Linked DNA regions of Homo sapiens: region 1 is linked to region 2. Evidence: fine-mapped expression QTL. A gene starts in region 2. The other region holds a variant in brackets. All regions are shown on one strand. Distances are from middle to middle. Region 1 overlaps PTGFRN (prostaglandin F2 receptor inhibitor). Region 2 holds the start of PTGFRN (prostaglandin F2 receptor inhibitor).

The links. PIP is the estimated chance that this variant, and not a neighbour inherited with it, causes the effect.
Region 1: its variant is the best candidate, but not a certain one, in a credible set for the expression of PTGFRN in monocytes (TOPMed, PIP 0.55).

Annotation. Positions count from the first base shown.
Region 1 is chr1:116,975,555-116,980,927 of GRCh38, reverse strand. The region is part of intron 7 of PTGFRN (prostaglandin F2 receptor inhibitor); the gene reads right to left. Among named protein-coding and RNA genes, the nearest start is that of CD101, 24 kb to the left of the region's middle. The variant C/G (reference allele first, on the strand shown) is at 2,603.
Region 2 is chr1:116,906,945-116,912,317 of GRCh38, reverse strand. PTGFRN (prostaglandin F2 receptor inhibitor) reads right to left here and starts at 2,402. Exons shown (of 9, transcript NM_020440.4): 1 at 2,066-2,402. The coding sequence starts at 2,114.

The DNA of each region.
Region 1 (5,373 bases), 69 kb before region 2:
TTATTTCTTGCCCATGTCCTCATCTAGGTTGCCAAGCTCCATGAGGACAGACTTTGGGCATATTTTTATTATTATTATACTTTAAGTTCTAGGGTACATGTGCACAACGTGCAGGTTTGTTACATATGTATACATGTGCCATGTTGGTGTGCTGCACCCATTAACTCGTCATTTACATTAGGTATATCTCCTAATGCTATCCCTCCCCTCTAACCCGACCCCACGACAGGCCCTGGTGTGTGATGTTCCCCTTCCTGTGTCCAAGTGTTCTCATTGTTCAATTCCCACCTATGAGTGAGAACATGAGGTGTTTGGTTTTTTGTCCTTGTGACAGTTTGCTGAGAATGATGGTTTCCAGCTTCATCCATGTCCCTACAAAGGACATGAACTCATCCTTTTTTATGGCTGCATAGTATTCCATGGTGTATATGTGCCACATTTTCTTAATCTAGTCTATCACTGATGGACATTTGGGTTGGTTCCAAGTCTGCTATTGTGAATAGTGCTGCAATAAACACACATGTGCATGTGTCTTTATAGCAGATTTATTTATAATCCTTTGACCCAGTAATGGGATGGCTGGGTCAAATGGTATTTCTATTTCTAGATCCTTGAGGAATCGCCACACTGTCTTCCACAATGGTTGAACTAGTTTACAGTCTCACCAACAGTGTAAAAGTGTTCCTATTTCTCCACATCCTCTCCAGCACCTGTTGTTCCCTGACTTTTTAATGATTGCCATTCTAACTGGTGTGAGATGGTGTTGCATTGTGGTTTTGATTTGCATTTCTCTGATGGCCAGTGATGATGAGCGTTTTTTCATGTGTCTGTTGGCTGCATAAATGTCTTCTTTTGAGAAGTGTCTGCTCATATCCTTTGCCCACTTTTTGATGGGGTTGTTTTTTTCTTGTAAATTTGAGTTCTTCGTAGAGTCTGGATATTAGCCCTTTGTCAGATGAGTAGACTGCAAAAATTTTCTCCCATTCTGTAGGTTGCCTGTTCACTCTGATGGTAGTTTCTTTTGCTGTGCAGAAGCTCTTTAGTTTAATTAGATCCCATTTGTCTATTTTGGCTTTTGTTGCCATTGCTTTTGGTGTTTTAAACATGAAGTCCTAGCCCATGCCTATGTCCTGAATGGTACTGCCTAGGTTTTCTTCTAGGGTTTTTATGGTTTTAGGTCTAACATTTAAGTCTTTAATCCATCTTGAATTAATTTTTGTATAAGGTGTAAGGAAGGGATCCAGTTTCAGCTTTCTACATATGGCTAGCCAGTTTTCCCAGCACCATTTATTAAATAGGGAATCCTTTCCCCATGTCTTGTTTTTCTCAGGTTTGTCAAAGATCAGATAGTTGTAGATGTGTGGTATTATTTTTGAGGGCTCTGTTCTTTTCCATTGGTCTATATCTCTGTTTTGGTACCAGCACCATGCTGTTTTGGTTACTGCAGCCTTGTAGTATAGTTTGAAGTCAGGCAGCGTGATACCTCCAGCTTTGTTCTTTTGGCTTAGGATTGACTTGGCAATGCGGGCTCTTTTTTGGTGCCATATGAACTTTAAAGTAGTTTTTTCCAATTCTGTGAAGAAAGCCATTGGTAGCTTGATGGGGATGGCATTGAATCTATAAATTACCTTGGGCAGTATGGCCATTTTCATGATATTGATTCTTCCTATCCATGAGGATGGAATGTTCTTCCATTTGTTTCTGTCCTGTTTTATTTTGTTGAGCAGTGGTTTGCAGTTCTCCTTGAAGAGGTCCTTCACATCCCTTGTAAGTTGGATTCCTAGGTATTTTATTCTCTTTGAAGCAACTGTGAATGGGAGTTCACTCATGATTTGGCTCTCTGTTTGTCTGTTATTGGTGTGTAAGAATGCTTGTGATTTTTGCACATTGATTTTGTATCCTGAGACTTTGCTGAAGTTGCTTATCAGCTTAAGATTTTGGGCTGAGACGATGGGGTTTTCTAAATATACAATCATGTCATCTGCAAACAGGGACAATTTGACTTCCTCTTTTCCTAATTGAATACCCTTTATTTCTTTCTCCTGCCTGATTGCCCTGGCCAGAACTTCCAACAATATGTTGAATAGGAGTGGTGAGAGAGGGTATCCCTGTCTTGTGCCAGTTTTCAAAGGGAATGCTTCCAGTTTTTGCCCATTCAGTATGATATTAGCTGTGGGTTTGTCATAAATAGTTCTTATTATTTTGAGATACGTCCCATCAATACCTAATTTATTGAGAGTTTTTAGCATGAAGGACTGTTGAATTTTGTCAAAGGCCTTTTCTGCATCTATTGAGATAATCATGTGGTTTTTGTCTTTGGTTCTGTTTATATGCTGGATTACATTTATTGATTTGCATATGTTGAACCAGCCTTGCATCCCAGGGATGAAGCCCATTTGATCATGGTGTATAAGCCTTTTGATGTGCTGCTGGATTCGGTTTGCCAGTATTTTATTGAGGATTTTTGCATCGATGTTCATCAGGGATATTGGTCTAAAATTCTCTTTTTTTGTTGTGTCTCTGCCAGGCTTTGGTATCAGGATGATGCTGGCCTCATAAAATGAGTTAGGGAGGATTCCCTCTTTTTCTATTGATTGGAATA[C/G]TTTCAGAAGGAATGGTACCAGCTCCTCCTTGTACCTTGGTAGAATTCGGCTGTGAATCCGTCTGCTCCTGGACTTTTTTTGGTTGGTAGGCTATTAATTATTGCCTCAACTTCAGAGCCTGTTATTGGTCTATTCAGGGATTCCGCTTCTTCCTGGTTTAGTCTTGGGAGGGTGTATGTGTCCAGGAATTCATCCATTTCTTCTAGATTTTCTAGTTTATTTGCGTAGAGGTATTTATAGTATTCTCTGATGGTAGTTTGTATTTCTGTGGGATCAGTGGTGATATCCCCTTTATCATTTTTTATTGCATCTATTTGATTCTTCTCTCTTTTCTTCTTTATTAGTCTTGCTAGTGGTCTATCTATTTTGTTGATCTTTTCAAAAAACCAGCTCCTGGATTCATTGATTTTTTTGAAGGGTTTTTTGTGTCTCTATCTCCTTCAGCTCCGCTCTGATCTTAGTTATTTCTTGCCTTCTGCTAGCTTTTGAATTTATTTGCTCTTGCTTCCCTAGTTCTTTTAATTGTGATGTTAGGGTGTCAATTTTAGATCTTTCCTGCTTTCTCTTGTGGGCATTTAGTGCTATAAATTTCCCTCTACACACTGCTTTGAATGTGTCCCAGAGATTCTGGTATGTTGTGTCTTTGTTCTCATTGGTTTCAAAGAACATCTTTATTTCTGTCTTCATTTCATTATGTACCCAGTAGTCATTCAGGAGCAGGTTGTTCAGTTTCCATGTAGTTGAGCGATTTTGAGTGAGTTTCTTAACCTGAGTTCTAGTCTGATTGCAGTGTGGTCTGAGAGATTGTTATAATTTCTGTTCTTTTACATTTGCTGAGGAGTGCTTTACTTCCAACTATTTTGGAAGTAAATTTTGGAATAAGTGCGATGTGTTGCTGAGAAGAATGTATATTCTGTTGATTTGGGGTGGAGAGTTCTGTAGATGTCTATTAGGTCCACTTGGTGCAGAGCTGAGTTCAATTCCTGGACATCCTTGTTAACTTTCTGTCTCATGGATTTGTCTAATGCTGACAGTGGGGTGTTAAAGTCTCCCATTATTATTGTGTGGAGTCTTAGTCTGTTTGTAGGTCTCTAAGGACTTGTTTTATGAATCTAGGTGCTCCTGTATTGGGTGCATATATATTTAGGATAGTTAGTTCTTCTTGTTGAATTGATCCCTTTACCATTATGTAATGGCCTTCTTTGTCTCTTTTGATCTTTGTTGGTTTAAAGTCTGTTTTATCAGAGACTAGGATTGCAACCCCTGCCTTTTTTTGTTTCCATTTGCTTGGTAGAATTTCCTCCATCCCTTTATTTTGAGCCTATGTGTGTCTCTGCACGCGAGATGGGTCTCCTGAATATAGCACACTGATGGGTCTTGAGTCTTTATCCAATTTGCCAGTCTGTGTCTTTTAATTGGAGCATTTAGCCCATTTACATTTAAGGTTAATATTGTTATGTGTGAATTTGATCCTGTCATTATGATGTTAGCTAGTTATTTTGCTCGTTACTTGATATAGTTTCTTCCTAGCATCAATGGTCTTTACAATTTGGCATGTTTTTGCAGTGGCTGGTACCGGCTGATCCTTTCCATGTTTAGTGCTTCCTTCAGGAGCTCTTGTAGGGCAGGCCTGGTGGTGACAAAATCTCTCAGCATTTGCTTGTCTGTAAAGGATTTTATTTCTTCTTCACTTCTGAAGCTTAGTTTGGCTGGATATGAAATTCTGGGTTGAAAATGCTTTTCTTTAAGAATGTTAAATATTGGCCCCGACTCTCTTCTGGCTTGTAGAGTTTCTGCCAAGAGATCCGCTGTTAATCTGATGGGCTTCCCTTTGTGGGTAACCCAACCTTTCTCTCTGGCAGCCCTTAACATTTTTTCCTTCATTTCAACTTTGGTGAATCTGACAGTTTTGTGTCTTGGAGTTCCTCTTCTCGAGGAGTATCTTTGTGGCGTTCTCTGTATTTCCTGAAGTTGAATGTTGGCCTGCCTTGCTAGGTTGGGGAAGTTCTACTGGACAATATCCTGCAGAGTGTTTTCCAACTTGGTTCCATTCTCCCCATCACTTTCAGGTACACCAATCAGACACAGATTTGGTCTTTTCACATAGTCCCATATTTCTTGGAGGCTTTGTTCATTTCTTTTTACTCTTTTTTCTCTAAACTTCTCTTCTCGCTTCATTTCATTCGTTTGATCTTCAATCACTGATACCCTTTCTTCCAGTTGACCGAATCAGCTACTAAAGCTTATGCATTTGTCACGTAGTTCTCATGCCATGGTTTTCAGCTCCATAAGGTCATTTAAGGACTTCTCTACACTGGTTATTCTATTTAGCCATTCGTCTAATCTTTTTTCAACGTTTTTAGCTTCTTTGCGATGGATTCGAACTTCCTCCTTTAGCTCAGAGAAGTTTGATCATCTGAAGCCTTCTTCTCTCAACTTGTCAAAATCATTCTCGGTCCAGCTTTGTTCCGTTGCTGGAGAAGAGCTGCGTTCCTTTGGAGGGGGAGAGGTGCTCTGATTTTTAGAATTTTCAGCTTTTCTGCTCTGTTTTTTCCCCATCTTTGTGGTTGTATCTACCTTTGGTCTTTGATGGTGGTGACGTAGAGATGGGGTTTTGGTGTGGATGTCCTTTCTGTTTGTTAGTTTTCCTTCTAACAGTCAGGACCCTCAGCTGCAGGTCTGTTGGAGTTTGCTGGAGGTCCACTCCAGACCCTGTTTGCCTGGGTATCAGCAGTGGAGGTTGTAGAACAGCGAATATTGCTGAACAGCA
Region 2 (5,373 bases):
ACAGCAGAGTTATCAGGAGGGTCATCAATGGTTCAGAGAACTGTTAGGTGAAAAGGTACTGGCTGGTGACACCACAGAAATTCCCTGTGTAATTCATAGGAGGCATCCAGCCAGGACAGGATATGCTGGAGTACAATCAAGATTTCCCCAAGCTGTGCTTTCCCCACTTCTATTTTGTTTTTGTCAGTCTCTCTTTGCCCCCTCCCCTCTTCTCCCTTCATTATTACTCAAGGGCATTGTTTTCAAAGTTCTACCTCATCCCACCCTCATAACTGGTACCCAGGTTGTTCAGAGAACTGCACAGCTCTAGGGGGAGTTATTCACACAGACTACAAAGTGAACAGCAGCTCCCGAAGTTGTACAGTGCACCATCTGTGCAAACCTAGGCCATGGCCCTGCTTGACCCAGACACATAAAGTCAATTAATGTGTGTGGACTATAACAGCAGTGCGCCACTAACATACAACTTACAAGGGTCCCAGAGTGAAAAGTAAAGATTAAAAGCACTACCACCGGGTGTGGTGGAGCATGCCTGTAATTCCAGCACTTCAGGAGACTGAGGTGGGAGAATGACTTGAGCCCAGGAGTTTGAGGCTTCAGTGAGCTGTGGTTGTGCCATTGCACTCCAGACTGGGTGAAAGACTGAGGCTTTGTTTCAAAAATAAAAATAAAGCACTAGGATCAGGGACTATAGAAAAGATGCCATAAAACTAAGTGGAAGATCTGGAAGCTTTCTGCACATGGGCTGAAGCTGAAGCAATGTGGCTGGACGAGCTCTCTGAGGGAGTCAGTTCAGAAAATCCCTTCAAGGTGAAGGAAGAAAACACAGCAGCCAGCAAGGCTGGTTCATCAGCAGCAGGAGTCATGGGGGTTACAGCAGTGTGGGCCCCGGTGTCCCCAGCAGGGGAGTAGCTATAGAAGGCCTCCTCTGGAACCCTCTGACCATAAGTGCAGAGTAATCATTTGCCCTGTGTGCAGCTGGGACCTGAATGGCACGGACACCGCACATCATGCGCTCTGTGAAAGACTCAGAGCCGCCTTCTCTAGGGGCTTGGAAGAGAACCCCAGGCCAGGTCACAGGAATCATCTTGTCCTGGTTGACACTGACAACAAGGATCCAAGAATATCAAAACATTTAAGAGTCGGCCCTGGGGTACCATGGTGGGCACTTAATAAACATATTTCCGTGGCTGGCTAGGATCACCATGTGGATCTACGTGAAGATGGTGTCTGTGTATGGAGTGAATGGAAAATGGAGAGGGAAAAAACCCACAAAAGATTCCTTGGGTGGGGGGAGGGCGCTGGGCCAAAACCTCACGGGGCACCCAGGGTTTCCGGAGGGTGGAAGACGAGGGGATAGTAAGGGAGGGAAAGTAACAGGTAGAAAAAGTTGGAGAAGCCAGGCTTTTAGGTCTTTGTGTATAAATACGCAGCTAGGCAGCTTCAAGAAAAGCTAAAAGAAAAGACTGAGGCAGAAGATCTAGCCACGACGAAAATGACGGCAGGACTCGCCCGCCGATTTCCATTGTAACGCTCCGGGCCACCCTGTGACCTTCGTGGAAGGAAGTTGGAGGATTCTCTCGCTTCCCTGGAAAGGCAACTCCGCGCGGGTTGGGTGAAGAGCGACCCGGCCGGCGGCGGCTATGGCGGGGCATATCAAAGGCTCACATTTCCGCTCTCGAGCCGAGGACCCGGGCCGGGACCGCAGCACCTTCCGGGCCGGGAGTTCAAGGTGAGCCGGGCTCCCGGCGGCCAACAGGTAGGGAGACCTGGGGGAAAGACGGCCCCGGGCCACTCCCCCCGGCACATGTTGGGGGCGAGGCTCGGCCTGGCGGAGCGGCCACTTGCACCCCGCGCGCGGGGCCCGAGCGGATTCGCGCCAGGCTCCGGGCGGCCCCGCGGCCGCTCCCCGCCGGGCCGAACAACCCGCGCACCCCGGCCGGGTTTCCCGGGAGCAGCCCGGGCACCCTCGGCGCCCCAGGCCGCGCGCTGCAGCCGCGCCCCGCCGAGCCCTCCAGGGCCTCGCCAGTCCCCGTGTGCCCCGCTGAGCCCCGCGCACACTCACCCAACGACAGGAGCGCCAGCAGCAGCGGCCTCGAGGCCAGGCGCCCCATGCTCGCCCGGCGGGAGCGACTCTCCCCCTCCTCCTCCTTCCCCGCCGCCTCTCCTCCTCCTCCTCTTCCAGCTCCGGCTGCTCCAGAGTCGGCGCTCCTCCGCCTGGGCCGCGCGCCTGCTCCGCTCTCCTCGCGAGCCGATAAATCCCAGCGCTGGGGCGTACGTGCGCCCCTGGCTCCGCTCGCTCCCTCCCGCCTCCTTCCCTCCCTCCTCCAGCCGGCCGGGCCCGGGAGCCGGCCCCGCCGATCCGAGTGTGCAGCCCCGACCGCTTCCCGAAAGCAGAAGGGAAGAACCGCAGCGCCCGCCCGCGCCTCCCATCCGGCGCTTTGCCAGCAACAAACACAAACTTTCCCAAGCCCCTCCCCGCTCCAGGTAACGGAGGAAGAGCCGGGGCCACCCGCTTAAAGGCGAGGAGGCGTCGGAGCCCACCCTGCCATCCCCTCTGGGCCCCCACCCCACGAGAAACTTTCCTCCGACCTTTAAAAGTTGGCCTGGGAAAGACTCGTCTGGAAATCCCATCGCTTTAGCCCTATCCCGGGACACCCCGCGTTCCATCACGCTGGAGTCACCCACGCGTGTCTAGTCTATCCTCAGCCAACTCCCCGCTCGTTCGGCCTCTCGTCCTGAGCTAAACACCCCACCAACCAGCCGCTTGGCCTATGCCAAAAATTATGCAGATAGGAGCGAAGGAGCTGAAAGGACTTTTAAAGGCCACGGATTCCAACCTCTACCATACAGAGGCCTTAAGTGTTTCGGTGAGGTGCCCAAGGATTCACAGGGAAGGGGCAAAATCAGAACCCCGCTCTCCTGACTCTGCCCACTCCCCGGTGGCTAGGGTGGGCCTGTCTCCTTCCTTACCCAGCTCCCTCCCTCTCCTCGGCGCCTGTGGCACTGATTAGAACAGCACCCCACAAAGACACCCATTTAAAAAACAAACAAAACCCAAGTGTATTAATAGCTATAGTACTTCATATAGAATGTACTCTTAAGACTTAATATTTATTGCTCTAAGTGGACACCACTGATTGCCAATAAAGACTCATTTTTCCCCCTACAATAGAGTTTTGTGCTTTTGATTTGAATACAAAAGGCCCGACTTGGTTGGGAGAAATGGAGCATTCCTTGCTTGAAACTTAGCAAGCATGATTCAAACACGCAAGGAGCAGCACTGGTGCCCACTGCCCGTCACTGGGCTTTCATTCACATGCAAAACGGATCGCAGATGCTTATGCGGAAACTGCCCACACTGGGGAAGAACACTGCTTTTACTCTCATGCATCCGTCTTTCAACCAACAAATGTTTCTTATTTCCCCACTATCAAATGTGTGATTAGCCAGGTATCTTTGGAAAGAGACTTAAAAATTCATTCCTGGTGGTGCAACGTTATTGTACTTAATGCCACTGAATGGTACACTTAGAAATGTTTAAAATTGCCAGGCCTGGTAACTGGTACTTGTAATGCTAGCTACTCAGAAGGCTGAGGTTGGGGGGGCAGGGGGAGGCGGGGGGCAGGGATGGTGTTGCTTGAGGCCAGGAGTTTTTATTTGTTTTGTCTTCTTTCTTTCTTTCATTTTTGAGACAGGGTCTCAAAATGAGGATCTGTCACCCAGGCCGGAGTGCAGTGGTGCGATCAGGGATCACTGCTGCCTTGACCTCCCAGGCTCAAGCAATCCTCCCACCTCCACCTCTCAAGTAGCTGGAACCACAGATGTGTGCCACCACACTCTCGCTAATTGTTTTTATTTTTTGTAGACACTGGAGTCTCCCTATGTTGGCCAGGCGGGTCTCGAGCTCCTGGGCTCAAGCGATTCTCCCGCCTCGGCCTCCCCAAAGACTGGGATTACAGGTCTGAGCCACTGGGCTGGCACTTTTTCTTCTTTTTCTTTTTTCTTTCTTTTTTTTTTTTATTTGAGGCTAGAAGTTTGAGACCACTCGGGCAACATTGTGAGACACCGTCTCTAAAAAAAAATTTTTAAGGTTAAAATGGTAAATTTTGTGCTATGTACATTTTACACAATAATTTTTTTAAAATTTATTTCTGCCGCCAAGCCTTTCCTGGTTCTGTTCATACACACTGTAATTCCTTTCTCTTCCCCATCCCAATTCTTCCCTAGAATCTCGCAGGGAAGTTTCCCAATTTCATTCAATCAACCTTGAATTCAAGCCTAATGTTAGGCCTTGGAAGGTAGTGGAGCTTCAGAGAAATGTGAGGCCTGGCACCTTCAGAAGCTCAGATTTCAGCTCATCCTCCATCTTTCCTTTTCTTAACCACCCAGAACGCTTAATGTTTGAACCACACATTGTGGCACTTGGTCACATTCAGTTTAGCAAAATGTATACACTACCCCCATCTCTGTCTAATAATGCATGGGCCTAAGAGGCTGTCACATTTTCACCTTGTATCCCACCTTATGGCAGAGTAGATGTTTTAAAAATTCTTTTGTTTAATAAACAATGTGTGTCAGGGACTGTGCCTAGCACATGGTAGGTCCCAATGTATATTTATAGAGTGAATTAATGGCAGACACTGGGCTAGATCCTGGGGGTACAGGGATGAAGCAGACAGTTCTTGCCCTTGAGGAGTCGACATTTTGTGCATTGTGATTGCATATGCAAGGTAGAGTTGTGACACCACAAGGGAGCGGCCAGTCCAGGAGGAGGCTGTCAGAGAAAGCTTCACAGAGGGGATGACTATGCAACGAGTCTTGAAAAATTGGTAGGTCTTTAGCTGTGGAGTGTAAGGATAAGCTTACAATAGATGTTGTGTATTTAATATGATAGAGATTCTTCTCACCTCACCCACCCCCAGGTATTATTAAATTAATGGTGTATCTTACAATCATGGAAATAACAGTGGTTAACCATTGAAATGATGAGAATAAATAAAATTGTCTAGGTAAGGCAGGTAGAATGAGGACTGAAGTGGGTAGCCTGCTGGTGGCTGGCAGTTAAATGTCATGGGAGTTAACCAAAGAGCCACTTTTGTAGCAAAAAATAAGCATAAATTAATAAGTCTAGACTGTTGGTTATAACCACCACACCCTTTGCACCTTCCTGACTACCAATGGATAAAGGAAGAAACACAGCAGACTGGCACAATTTGTTAATTCATGACTCTGGAATCTGATGATGCTTTTACTATGAAAGATATTTATTTACCAGAGTGAGTAACCTTCTATACAGGTAAGGCTTTTGCCCCAACCAGTTGTTCTCCTATCTTAGTCTATAGGCTTGCCTGGGGCAGGAAGACTCACTCT